Homo sapiens: one gene and its partner. The protein of the gene in region 1 interacts with the protein of each later gene in a pairwise test. Each region holds a gene or a part of one and is shown in the gene's direction. Other genes may lie near its edges.

Region 1 (7,017 bases):
CCGGCTAATTTTTGTATTTTTAGTAGAGATGGGTTTCACCATGTTGGCCAGGCTGGTCTCAAACTCCTGACCTTGTGATCTGCCTGCCTCGGCCTCCCAAAGTGCTGGGATTACAGGCGTGAGCCACCGCACCTGGCCACATATGCTAATTTTTAGAGACATTGAATATAGTCAAAAGCAAAACAAGAAGATACAAAAAAAATGACTGATTATGGCAAGCTTCACTATGACTTATCATTACCTATCAGTAACATAACCTTGATAAATCATTTGAGTTTGAACACTAAAATTTCTTCCAAAACCATGTGCATTCTGCCGCAGTTATTACTACCATATTAGATTCCCCCATAAACAGGAAGGAAGGTCCAAATAAGCTCAGTGGAATAAGAAAAATTAGAAGGAATCGTGAGTTTTGTTTTGTTAATGTGGCAGGTTTCTCCATGTGCCTGGTGGGCAGATGCAGAAATGCCTTCTCCATTTTAGACGGTAGAGCTGGTCCTTACTTTGGACACAAACAGACAACATAATTTAGAGAAACTAGAATTGCCTTAGTTATCATGTTTAGTTTGGGGAGTAAGTACATATGCCCCTTCTGAATTTTGGAATTTCATTTGATCCGCTTGCTCTTTCCTTTTTTTTTTTTTTTTTTTTTTTTTGAGAGAGAGAGGGTCTGGCTGTGTTGCCTAGGCCAGAGTACAGTGGCACAATCATGGCTTACTATTACAGCCTTGCTGCCAGCCTCAAGCGATCCTCCCATCTCAGCTTCCTGAGTAGCTGGGAGTATGTACACGCACCACCACGCCTGGCTAATATTTTGATTTTTTTTTTACACCATGCCTGGCTAATATTCTGATTTTTTTTTTTTTTTTTTTTGTAAAGACAAGGTCTCATGTTGCCCATGCTGGTCTTGAACTCCTGGGCCCAAGCAATCCTCCTGCCTTGGCCTCCCAAAGTGCTAGGATTACAGTCATGAGCCACTGTCCCTAGCCGTCTGTGACTTTTTACCAGATTAACTTGCTTGATTCTCCTTGTTCTTTTTGATTTTGCTCCTGTGAACTTTGGTTCAGTAGCTGATTTAGTCACATTCATGTAGTGTTAAAAAGACTTTGTCATCATGTGAGGTTTTTCTTTTTCAGTAATGACCATCCCAAAGTTGGGGCCTCACTTTACTCACTCACACTTCATACTGATACATAGTTAAGACTCTTATTGAGAGGAGGACAAAGGTCTAAAGAGGAAGGCAGGTCTGTTTTTCCAGTTGGGGGCACACCATGCTCTCTCTGTTGAGGGGTAGCAAGCTGTAGCTCGAGGGCAGTGTGAAAGTGAGCCTTCAAGAGGTACAAAGAAAAAATGAAAGGTCAGTGGAGAAAATGTGGTATTTATAGCAACAAAAGAAATCTCCTTGCGAACTTCATTGAGCTTATGTCTAAAGATAGCAGTAGGGAGACCAGGGAGAAGAAAAGTTTGTAAAAGAAGTAAAATCAAGACACAAAGGTTTCCTGGCCCTTCTGTCCCCATCCTAGGCCATTCGTTTCCTCCAGTGTCACATGTAACCTTGTAGGTTAAAAAAAAAATGCATTTTTAAAGAGGAAAAAATAAATAAAATGTAACAGGAGAAAACAAGGCATTTGTACTTTTGCCACTGATTGCATTCCGAATAGTGAGCTCCTTGAGGTTGACCTGCTGCCTGACTGTGCCTGTCCTGTCATTGCAGGATGATGTGGGCAGCAGGGACCGTGGCTGCCATGTCCAGCATCACGTTTCCGGCAATCAGTGCCCTCGTCTCTCGGAATGCAGAGTCAGATCAGCAAGGTGAGGTCACTGCCCCCCACTTGTTTTTCTCCTTCAACGGGAGACCTCCCTGCTAGAAGCAGGAGCAGCTCTGAGTTCTCCCCATCAACAGCAGGAGCCGACAGCCATATGGCCCCTTTTATCATACCTATTTACTTTGGCAGATAGGAACATTCTATTTTCCTCTCTGCTTTGATCTTACACTTATATTTTTTAAAGCTAGACTTAGCAGTTCAGATTGCTAACAATTAGAAATAGAACTATTCATTTTCCCTTTTCAGTTTTGATACATCTTTTCTTCTTTAGTGTCACAATTAAGCAGACTATAATCACATTTTAACAGATGTCTATTAAATAATGAAAAACCAGTTAACCACGAGTTACTTAATTACTTTATTCACTAATTATTTGGAATAACTCAAAGTCTTTGAGCTTAATTTAGAAAATAGTTTGAGAGTAGTAAGAAAAAGTCTGTGTGGTTGTTGATAGATGTTGAGTGAGAGATGAAATTAAAATTAAGACTGCTATGTGGAAAATAGCATTCTACCATCTAGATCCATATCCCATCCTTCCCATGCCTCTGCTTCCCTTCCTGTCCTGTCTTGTCCTCCCTCCATCCCTTCTTCCCTCTTTTCCCACCCTTCCTCCCCCCACCCCCCACCTCCTACCCCTTACAGGGTCTCACTGTCACCCAGGCTGGAGTGTAGTGGTACAATCTTGGCTCCCTGCAGCCTCCGTCTCCTGGGCTCAAGTGATCTCCCAGTCACCCTCCCAAGTACCAGGGACTAGAGACGCACACTACCATGCCCAGCTAATTTTTTGTATTTTTAGTGGAGATGGGGTTTCGCCATGTTGCCCAGCCTGGTCTCGAACTCCTGGGTTCAGTCTGCCTGCCTCGGCCTCTCAAAGTGCTGAGATTACAGGTGTGAGCCCCCATGCCTGGACTGCTTTCCTTTCAAGCAGTTCCCATGGCTAGATTTAATCTCTTTCCTTCTCTATCTCCTAATGGCTCACCTTATTGTATTCAGGAAGAAGTAGACAATTTTAGAGGGAGAAAAATTTTTTAATGCCTAAGAGCCCTTTTTTTTAAAAGTTTTAGTAAAAAACTATATTGGAAAGGATGGTTTATTCATTGCATTTTTTTTTTCTATATCAGAAGTTAGGTATCTTACTCAGATTCATTGTTAAATATTGTCCCTTGAAGACCACACATTCTGTATGTCACTCCTGGCTACAGTAACTCAGTTGGTTTGCATCCTTAGGGAGGTGCTGTGTCTGAAGTGAAGATGTGATGACCCATCCGTGGAGGACTGTCACTGCCTTGGCATCTGACAGACACCGTCCTGTCATTTGGGGCATGGATTTTCTTTTGACTTTTTATACTTATTCATGTCAATATACATGTTTCTGAATGTCAGCATATAAAAGTTTTGGAACACATTGTATTAGGCTGAATTATATACTACCATTTTTGATTTACAGAAACATTCATTTCATACAGTTCAAGCTAACTTTTTACTTGCTATGTTAGAAAGCAGAGATATTTAGGAATTTGGCACTTCTGGGTTTTTCAGTGTAGGTCTCTAGGGAGATAGGCTGGAATACACCTGTGAAGATGAAGTCTGCCTACTGGGGACTGGTCTGTATTCCTGACACCAGGGCTGCCAGAGGTGAAGGGCAAGTTTTTGTTGTGAAAGCACCAGTAAATGACCAGAGCAGGGAAATCTCAGTTGACAGAAAAGTGGACATTGCCTGAAATGGGAAGATATTAAAGTTTTGGATTGTATATGTTTTTATGATTTTATATGTTTTATATGGTTTTATTAGTTTTGGATTTTATTTTATAATGGATAAAGTCTTCCTAATCTACTTTCATTAGCATGCTTTCTCTTTTCCTCAGTCTTGCCGAATTAGTGTATCATGGTTATGAGAAAGTACTGTGCAGCTCCAAATCTTGAGATGCCTTTCTGAGAAGACTGGCATTATTTTCTTTGTTCTGATTTAGGAGTTGCCCAGGGGATCATAACTGGAATAAGAGGACTATGCAATGGCCTGGGGCCAGCACTGTATGGCTTCATATTCTACATGTTCCATGTGGAACTGACTGAGTTGGGCCCGAAATTGAATTCTAACAACGTTCCCCTGCAGGTAATTTGGTCATAAGTCTAGTTTTGTAACAACAATTATGTATGATTATAGCAAAATCTTGTGACCTTAAATTTGGAGAGCATTCTTTCTTGTATGTTACTATATTTTATTTGGCAGCAATAAGTATTGTGTTCATTGCTTCTCGGGATCAGGGAGGGGTCATTTTAGTGATTTAATATCTTATGTAAAAGATATGTCTTAACTTTGTTCAGATTCTGTTTTCACCTACACAATCACTACACTATTCTCTGGATAAGCCCAGGCTAGTTAAAATTTGAAATGACCTAAAAATCCAGCTAAAAATTGAGGTAGGGTACTTTTTGTACTATTTATTTGAAATTTCTTCCCTTGTTCCCTCTAAGCCATATCTATACAAAGCTGGAATTAATGTTCATGTACAAAGGTGCATGATCTGAAGTCATAGGATGGGATTATAGGTAAACAGCTGTTGCTTACAAGCTTACAGTTTTGCTTAAGCTATTTGGAAGTGGTACAAAAAGCAGTTAATTAGTTGCCCTTTGTCATATTCCAAACACCAAGCTCTAGTGGAGTTTGCCTTGACATTTAATGAAACATTTGCTTATGAGAATATGATTCACTTTTTGGTGGTGTGTTTTTTTTGGGTAATCTAGGAATAATTTTGAGTTAAAAGACTAACTGTATTCTTTGTCTCCACTTGTTTTCCACGTTCAACAGGGAGCTGTCATCCCAGGCCCGCCGTTTTTATTTGGGGCATGTATAGTCCTTATGTCTTTTCTGGTTGCCTTATTCATTCCTGAATACAGTAAAGCCAGTGGAGTTCAAAAACACAGTAACAGCAGCAGCGGCAGCCTGACCAACACCCCAGAACGGGGCAGTGATGAGGACATTGAGCCACTACTGCAAGACAGCAGCATCTGGGAGCTCTCTTCATTTGAGGAGCCTGGGAATCAGTGCACTGAGCTGTAAACTCGGCAGAAAGTGGGATTCTGCATACGCCATCTCTGAGAGCCATGGAGGGAGCCACACCCCTGGTGACTTCATGGTGCTGGATGGGAGACGCTAGCGGCATCCTTCAGGGCCAAGTTTGATAAATACCACCGCCATCATTCTGCTCATCCTCCTCCTGTTTTTTTTTTTTCTCTTACATTCTTTTTTTTTTTCCTGTTTATACATTAGAACAAGATAAGATTTGAAATACTTCCTTGCAAATAATGTGCAACTCCCAAGGTGAAACTCAAATAGAAAAAGTCATCTCTCTGGTAGAAAGGATGGCTTTCCTGTAATGACTATAGAGTAAGAGTGGCAGCAATCTTTCCATGCCCTTTTCAGCAGAAGGCACAGAACAGTAGCGGGACTGCCATCTCTGGCAAGATTTCAGGTAAAGAATCTCTTCTTAATTTCTACCTTCCTGTTTCTCTGAATCAGCCCATAGGTGTTGATGAGTGGCCACTCTTAAAGAGTCACTCAGTATCAGGGATCTACTGTCTTTGTTCAAAGGTCAAATAAAAACCTAGTCTCCTTTTATTCTACTTTCTATTCTTAGCTAGAATGAAACTCAGCATATATACACTTCTGGACATAATAATATTGAATAGTAATTACCTTTACTAGATGAAAGAAATTTTCATTACAAACTTAAATCATGTAAAACTCAACAACTCAGATTCCTGGACCTGGTGTCCTGGTTGGGTCCAAGGTGATTTTACAGAAGAAAAAAACAACTCAAGCATTCTGGTGGCAACATAGAGATTGTAGGCTGCTTCTAAGAAAGTTATTAACAATTTGGAAATTCCTAAGTAGGATGAGAGTTAGTAACTGGATACGAGTGAAGTTTATATCCAAGTTCAGACTCAAAGGCATTATTATGATTTGCTTCTTCCCATGTCTTCCATGTCCTGCTTCTCAAAGTTTTTCTCATCCATCACACTCCTGCCTTAACTGCTCTGAGTATGCATTTGTTTTCAATTCATCTTTATTTCAATCTGTTTAACTTTTGAATCGCATGGGAATACGCACATTAAGTTCCTTTCTAAAATAAGGTTTTATGAAGCTGAGTTTCACGATAAGTGTCTTGCTATTTTTTGAGATGTTTTATGGACAAAGAAAACTTTACAGATTTATATGTATTTTGCTGCACCAGTAAATGGACCATTAACTAGGGCCCACCTTTAACAGAGCACCCCTTTGAAAGTTTTATAGGTATGAAATATATGTAGATATTTGTAAAGGGTTTTAATTTTTTTTTTTTGATGGGGTGCTGTGTAAATCTTGTATTTATAAATGTAATGAAGGTATTGACAGAAAAAAATATATACAACTTTTATAAAGGATTGTGTACTGACTGAATACATTTAAAAGAAAATATATTTTGAAACCTGTTCTGCTATGAACAGAGATAACATATCTTTTTACTATGCTATTGGTTTTTAGGTTAAGCTTCCTAATGCATAATAAATTTACAGTGGTTACTTTTATGTCTTGTGTCTTTTTTTTAAAGCAAATAGTATTGCTCTTTTGGGTTCTCTGTTGGGTGGCTTTCAATTAAACTGAGTTGTAATCTTTCAGCTGATGCAAAAGGTATGTATTTTCAAAAAAATTTTATTTTTAACAAAATTCCTTCAAAGTCTCCCTTCAAAAACATCGTAACTACAGATGCTCCTTGAAAAAAACATCGTAACTACAGATGCTCCTTGACTTACCGATGGGGTTCCATCCTGATAAGCCCATTGTAAGTTGAAAATATCATACATTGCAAATGCATTATTAACACAGCTTAGAAGCTTCAGCACTTTCGGTATCAGCACAGTAGAGTATTGGTTGGTTGTTTACCCTCCTGAGTGCATAGTGATTGGGAGCTGCAGCTCACTTGCCACTGCTCAATGTCACGAGAGAGTATCATACCACATATCGCCAGCCTGGGAAAAAAAATCAAAATTTGAAGTATGGTTTCTACTAAATGGGTATCGCTTTTATACTGTCATGAAGTTGGAGACCATCTGTATTTTTATTTTTAAAAAGCAGGGACAGAACAAAAACGCGTATATCCACGTTCATAGCATTCATAACAGCCAAAAGATGGAAAAAAACCTAAGTGGC
Region 2 (4,777 bases), on another chromosome or scaffold:
ACAGCCAAGTGAACGTGCGCATTCTTTTCAGATGCCCGTTGGGCATTCACCAAACAGACCATATCCTGGGTCATGAGAATTTTTTTAAAAAAGAACTGAAATTGTGCAAAGTATTTTCTATGAATATAATATAATTAAGCTAGAAATTAATAGCAGAAATAGATCTTAAGTCTCCAAAGGTTTAGAAGCTAAACAACACACCTTTAAACAATCTGTTAAAGAGGATATTGCAAAGCAAACTATTGAAAATATTTTGAACTGAAAAATACACCACCATATCAAAATTTGTGGGATGCAACTAAAGCAATGCTTAGAGTTAAATGTGTAGTATTAAATACTGATTTTAGAAAAAAGTTCTCAAATCATCAATCTAAGCTTAAGAAACTATAAAATGAAATGCAAAGGAACCCCAAGCCAGCAGAAGGAAGGAAATAACGGAGCTAACACCAAGCAACAAAAATGAAAACAAAACTGCAGCAAACATAAAAAACCAAACTGAAAGCTGGTTCTTTGGAACAAATCATTAACTGATAAACCAGTGGCCAGAATGACAAGAAAGCACAGATCCCCAGTATTTGGTATGGAAGAGGATATTCTGTAGACCCCACAGGCATCAAAAGAGTACAATGAACAACCTCATGCCCATACATTTGAAAATTTGGATAAAATGGACCAATTCCTTTAACCCAAGAAGAAATAGCTTGAGTATCTCTTAAGTAGATAACCCGTATCTATGAAGGAAGTTGTAGATGCATAATCTAAAGTCTGAAAAGGCTCTTTTTCCAGAGAAGCCAGAAATTGTGTCTGTGTGTGGGTGTGTGTGTGTTTACAGAGTTACCAACTGATTAGAAACAAAGTGTTGAAACTCAAGTGTGAGCTGATGCTGCATGCCAAGTAAAGCCACGGGCTTTGTGTGGGAAGTAGCCTGTCCCTGAAGCAGGCGTGGTGGTGGCTCTCAGGCCTTGAGTCTTGTTCGCAAGCACATCCTGGGAAATCTCAGCCGTGTGTGAGGGTCAGGCGAGCTCTGTTTCCCATCCTGGTGTGAGGGGTCAACCGGAAGCTGCGTGGGGCGAAGGTGACCGGTGGCGGGGTCACCGCGCAATGCTCGGGCGCCTGCTGTGTGCATGGCTAGCGCAGGAAAGGCAGGCGCCTTTGCACCGGGGCTGTGGTCCCAGGCCCGGAGCCCCACCCCAAGTCAGCTGTGCAGCCCTGCCTGGGCCTAAAGCAGGCAGGGGGGAATTCCGAAGCCTGGGCTGACTGCTGGGGTGTGTGAGAGGCCGAGGGGCCTGCACCACCTTCCCCCGGTGCTACCCAGGCACCACCCTGTCTTTTTGTCTGTGGAAGAGACTGGATTTTGTGGAGCTGGAGCTGCATCCAGGGGAGGACACATCCCAGAGAATAAAAAATGGGAGGAAAATGCCCTCTGTGGGTCAGGGCCTTATAATTTAGCTAAACCGACCCAAGTGGAAACAGTCCCAAAGCCTCCTGGTTTTTCCCAGTGGGTGTAATGATAAAGCCGGATTTATGTTCTCAGAGGCCAACAAGATGCTCTAGAGCCGAGCACTGTGGGCTTGGGAGAGAGGAGGGGGTGCAGATGCCGGCTGTCTCCTGCGGGTTCCTAGCTCCAGCCCTGAACACACCCGGCCATGGCTGTGCCTGAAGACTCTCACACAGGGCGGCTACGGCACCCAGGTGCCCACCCTGGCTTATGAGCGGGACGGACGCCCCAGGGTGGGGGAGGGCTGTGTCCTGTCCTTTCTGTCCAGGCAGCGCTCCCCACCCAGGCTCTGCCTCTGGCTTCAGGAGCTGTGGAAGGGTCAGCGGCCGCTGATTTAAACATTTCACACGGGAAAGTGCAGCAGCACTCATGTTCACTGCTAGGCAAGCCAGGGCATGAACACAGCGGTGGGGGAAGCGTGTTCGGACTGGGATGGTGGGTGGCGGCTGCTCCCTGTTCACTCCAGGAAAGGAAGGTTTGCATCTATCACCAGGGAGGGAGGCCGGCAGAGACCCAAAAGCAGCTGCTCTGCTCCACTTGGCTGTGTGCCTGGGGGCACAGATCTGCGTCCTCAGCACCCTCCCAGGCCCGGCCCCTCCCAGAATTGCCACCGCGCACCAGGGGCCCTGACGTCAGCTGCTCGCCCTGCTGTCCCCTGTAGCCTCGAGCTGGTCTCACTGTTCTTGGGCTTGCAGAGCCCCAGCCAGGCGGCAGCTCTTGCGGCCACAGAGAAGTCAAGGGTGGGGGTTGCATGGGACAGGTGGGGTCAGGGTGTGTCCTTTGGCCCCCTGGGGTGTCCCTGACCCCTGGGTCACCCTGTAGACTGGGTGTCCCCTCAACCCCCTGGGTGCCCCCTGAGCCCCAGGCCTCCCCGCCGACTGCCTGGGGGTCCCCTTAGCCCCCTGGGTGCCCCTGAGCCCCAGGTCTCCCCGCTGTCTAAGCCCCAGGCCTCCCCACTGACTGAGCCCAGGTCGCCGCCCTCCCCACCGCTGACCGCCTGCTTGTGTCTCCACAGCATCAAGATGGTGCTCATGTGGACCAGTGGTGACGCCTTCAAGACGGCCTACTTCCTGCTGAAGGGTGCCCCTCTGCAGTTCTCCGTGTGCGGCCTGCTGCAGGTGCTGGTGGACCTGGCCATCCTGGGGCAGGCCTACGCCTTCGCCCGCCACCCCCAGAAGCCGGCGCCCCACGCCGTGCACCCCACTGGCACCAAGGCCCTCTGACAGTGGGGAGGACGAGGATGTGGGACCGCCAGCCGCGGGCACTGGTGGGCCCTGACCTCCCCGCGGGGAGGGTGGGTGCTGTGGCCCCTGCAGGTGTGGCAGAGATGGGGCATGGGCATTGGGGTCTCCATCAGCCTCTGTGGGGTGTCTCAGGGTGGGCAGTGGGGGTGGGGCTGGGACGCTGTTTGTGCTCAGCGGGGACAGCCAGGGTTGATCTGGCCCCGAGGGTTTTGGATGTTTTTAGGATGACATAAAAAGCAAGTGTTTTCCCCATTTCCTCTTATGAAACACCGTCTGAGCCCAAGGTACACATTGGGCGGCCTGCAGGAACCTGCTCCAGGTGGACACACGGGCCAGCAGCCGCGAACCTTGAAGCTGGGGTGACCGCAGGAGACCCTGTAAGGCCTGTGAGCGGAGCCCTCGACCCCGTGACACCCTGGCCAGACACCCTGCTTGGACTGGGGTGGCCTCTGCTACCCAGGGGTCTGGCACGGGGGAGGGCTGGGGCTTTCTCTGCCTGGTACACACGGAAAGGCGGCTGTGCGGACGCAGGGTCACCGTGCTCCGGGTTTTCTGACAGTCGGTGTTTCCTGGGCCTTTGGAGTGGCTGCGAGGCCTGAACGCCTTGTGGATCCGCTGTGTCCAGCCCGGCTGAGCATCGCCAGGGCTAGCTCATGCTGCTCTTGTCAGCCTCTGGTTCTCCTCGAGTCCTTGGGGACGTGGCAGATGCCAGCGACCATCAGACAACGTGGAGGCCCTCATGGGCAATGGCTGAGGGGGCCGGGCTGAGGCTGTGCACATGCAGTCTGCACGCCACTCTTGGGCTCTGCTGGCGGAGATCCCCTTCCTTCTGGGTGCAGACTGCACCTCCGGATGCAGTTTTGATGTCCATCTTCCAGGAGAGACGGTCTCGGGTCCAGGGAGTGGAGGGGGCTGCCCCTGCCGTGCAGGTCCTGGCCGATGGCGCCTTACCCTGCTGCCCTGGGCTTTTGGCCTGAAGCAAATTCCTGAGTGGGGGGTACTGGGGCCTGCCGCATCCTGTCCTGTCCACTGCCCACCCCCGTGTGCTGGCTCCCTCACTTCTGGCTGCAGTGGGAGCCGCCAGTCTGACCCTTGTCACCGCACGCTCTGCCCCCACCCCGTTGCAAGAGGTCACACCATGTCAGCAGCCTTGCACTGACCGCAGCCGGCCCCCAGGCCTCAGAGTTCTGGATGCTTCCGTGCGGCTCCAACAGGCATCGTCTTCCCTTCCGCAGGTGGAGGGGCCGCTTCCCGCAGGCATCTGAGCTCTGTGCCGGGGCCGTGGCCATGGGAAGATGTTCCACGCTGCCTCCTCCTCGAGTTTTCCTCGGAAACACTCTTGAATGTCTGAGTGAGGGTCCTGCTTAGCTCTTTGGCCTGTGAGATGCTTTGAAAATTTTTATTTTTTTAAGATGAAGCAAGATGTCTGTAGCGGTAATTGCCTCACATTAAACTGTCGCCGACTGCAGGCGCAGTGACTGCTGAATGTACCCTGTGTGGCGACTTGGAATCAATAAACCATTTGTGGATCCTGAGTTGGCCTTGGGCAGAGGGAAGGATCTGGCTGTGGTCCTGGCCTCTGCCCAGACACACCCTTGTAGCCTGGGCCACCTTAGAAGGCCCCTGTGTGACCTGGGTTCCTCCAGGGCCCCAAACAACAGCCCAGCCCCCTCGACCTGTCACTGGCCTGTGCCTGTGGGCCGGCAGCCCGGGGGTCCTTTTGGCTCCTCACAGACGGGTCTGGCACTGCCTCTAGCTGCCCTGGCCACATCCGCCCTTCTGCCTCCCACCACCGAAGGCTTAGAGCATGGGAAGGGTCTCCTGTAAAGGCCAAGAGAAGTGTTTCCAGATTTGCGATCTTGGAGCAGCACATACAGATGGAGCTGTGTGTGCATAGCGATTTTTTCTGTGCAGTTTACATTGAAGGCAAGATGTTTCTTTGTCCAGTAAAAAACCAGGTGTGTGGGTGCAGGGCAGGATTTGGGTTGAAGGGCCCATCTGGGTACTAGGAGAGGGCACAGGCCACGTCCAGGCA

The links. Proteins that work in one complex are often made in the same cells at the same time.
Region 2: the proteins of SLC71A2 (region 1) and SLC66A2 interact in binary tests that used the Homo sapiens proteins (3 or more experiments, as listed by UniProt).

The regions. Positions count from the first base shown.
Region 1 is NC_000009.12:94,454,526-94,461,542, forward strand, and holds the end of SLC71A2 (hippocampus abundant transcript-like protein 1), read left to right. Parts: intron 1-1,714; coding exon 1,715-1,812; intron 1,813-3,796; coding exon 3,797-3,939; intron 3,940-4,635; coding exon 4,636-4,887; 3' UTR 4,888-6,517; downstream 6,518-7,017.
Region 2 is NC_000018.10:79,901,920-79,906,696, reverse strand, and holds the end of SLC66A2 (solute carrier family 66 member 2), read left to right. Parts: intron 1-2,513; coding exon 2,514-2,721; 3' UTR 2,722-4,277; downstream 4,278-4,777.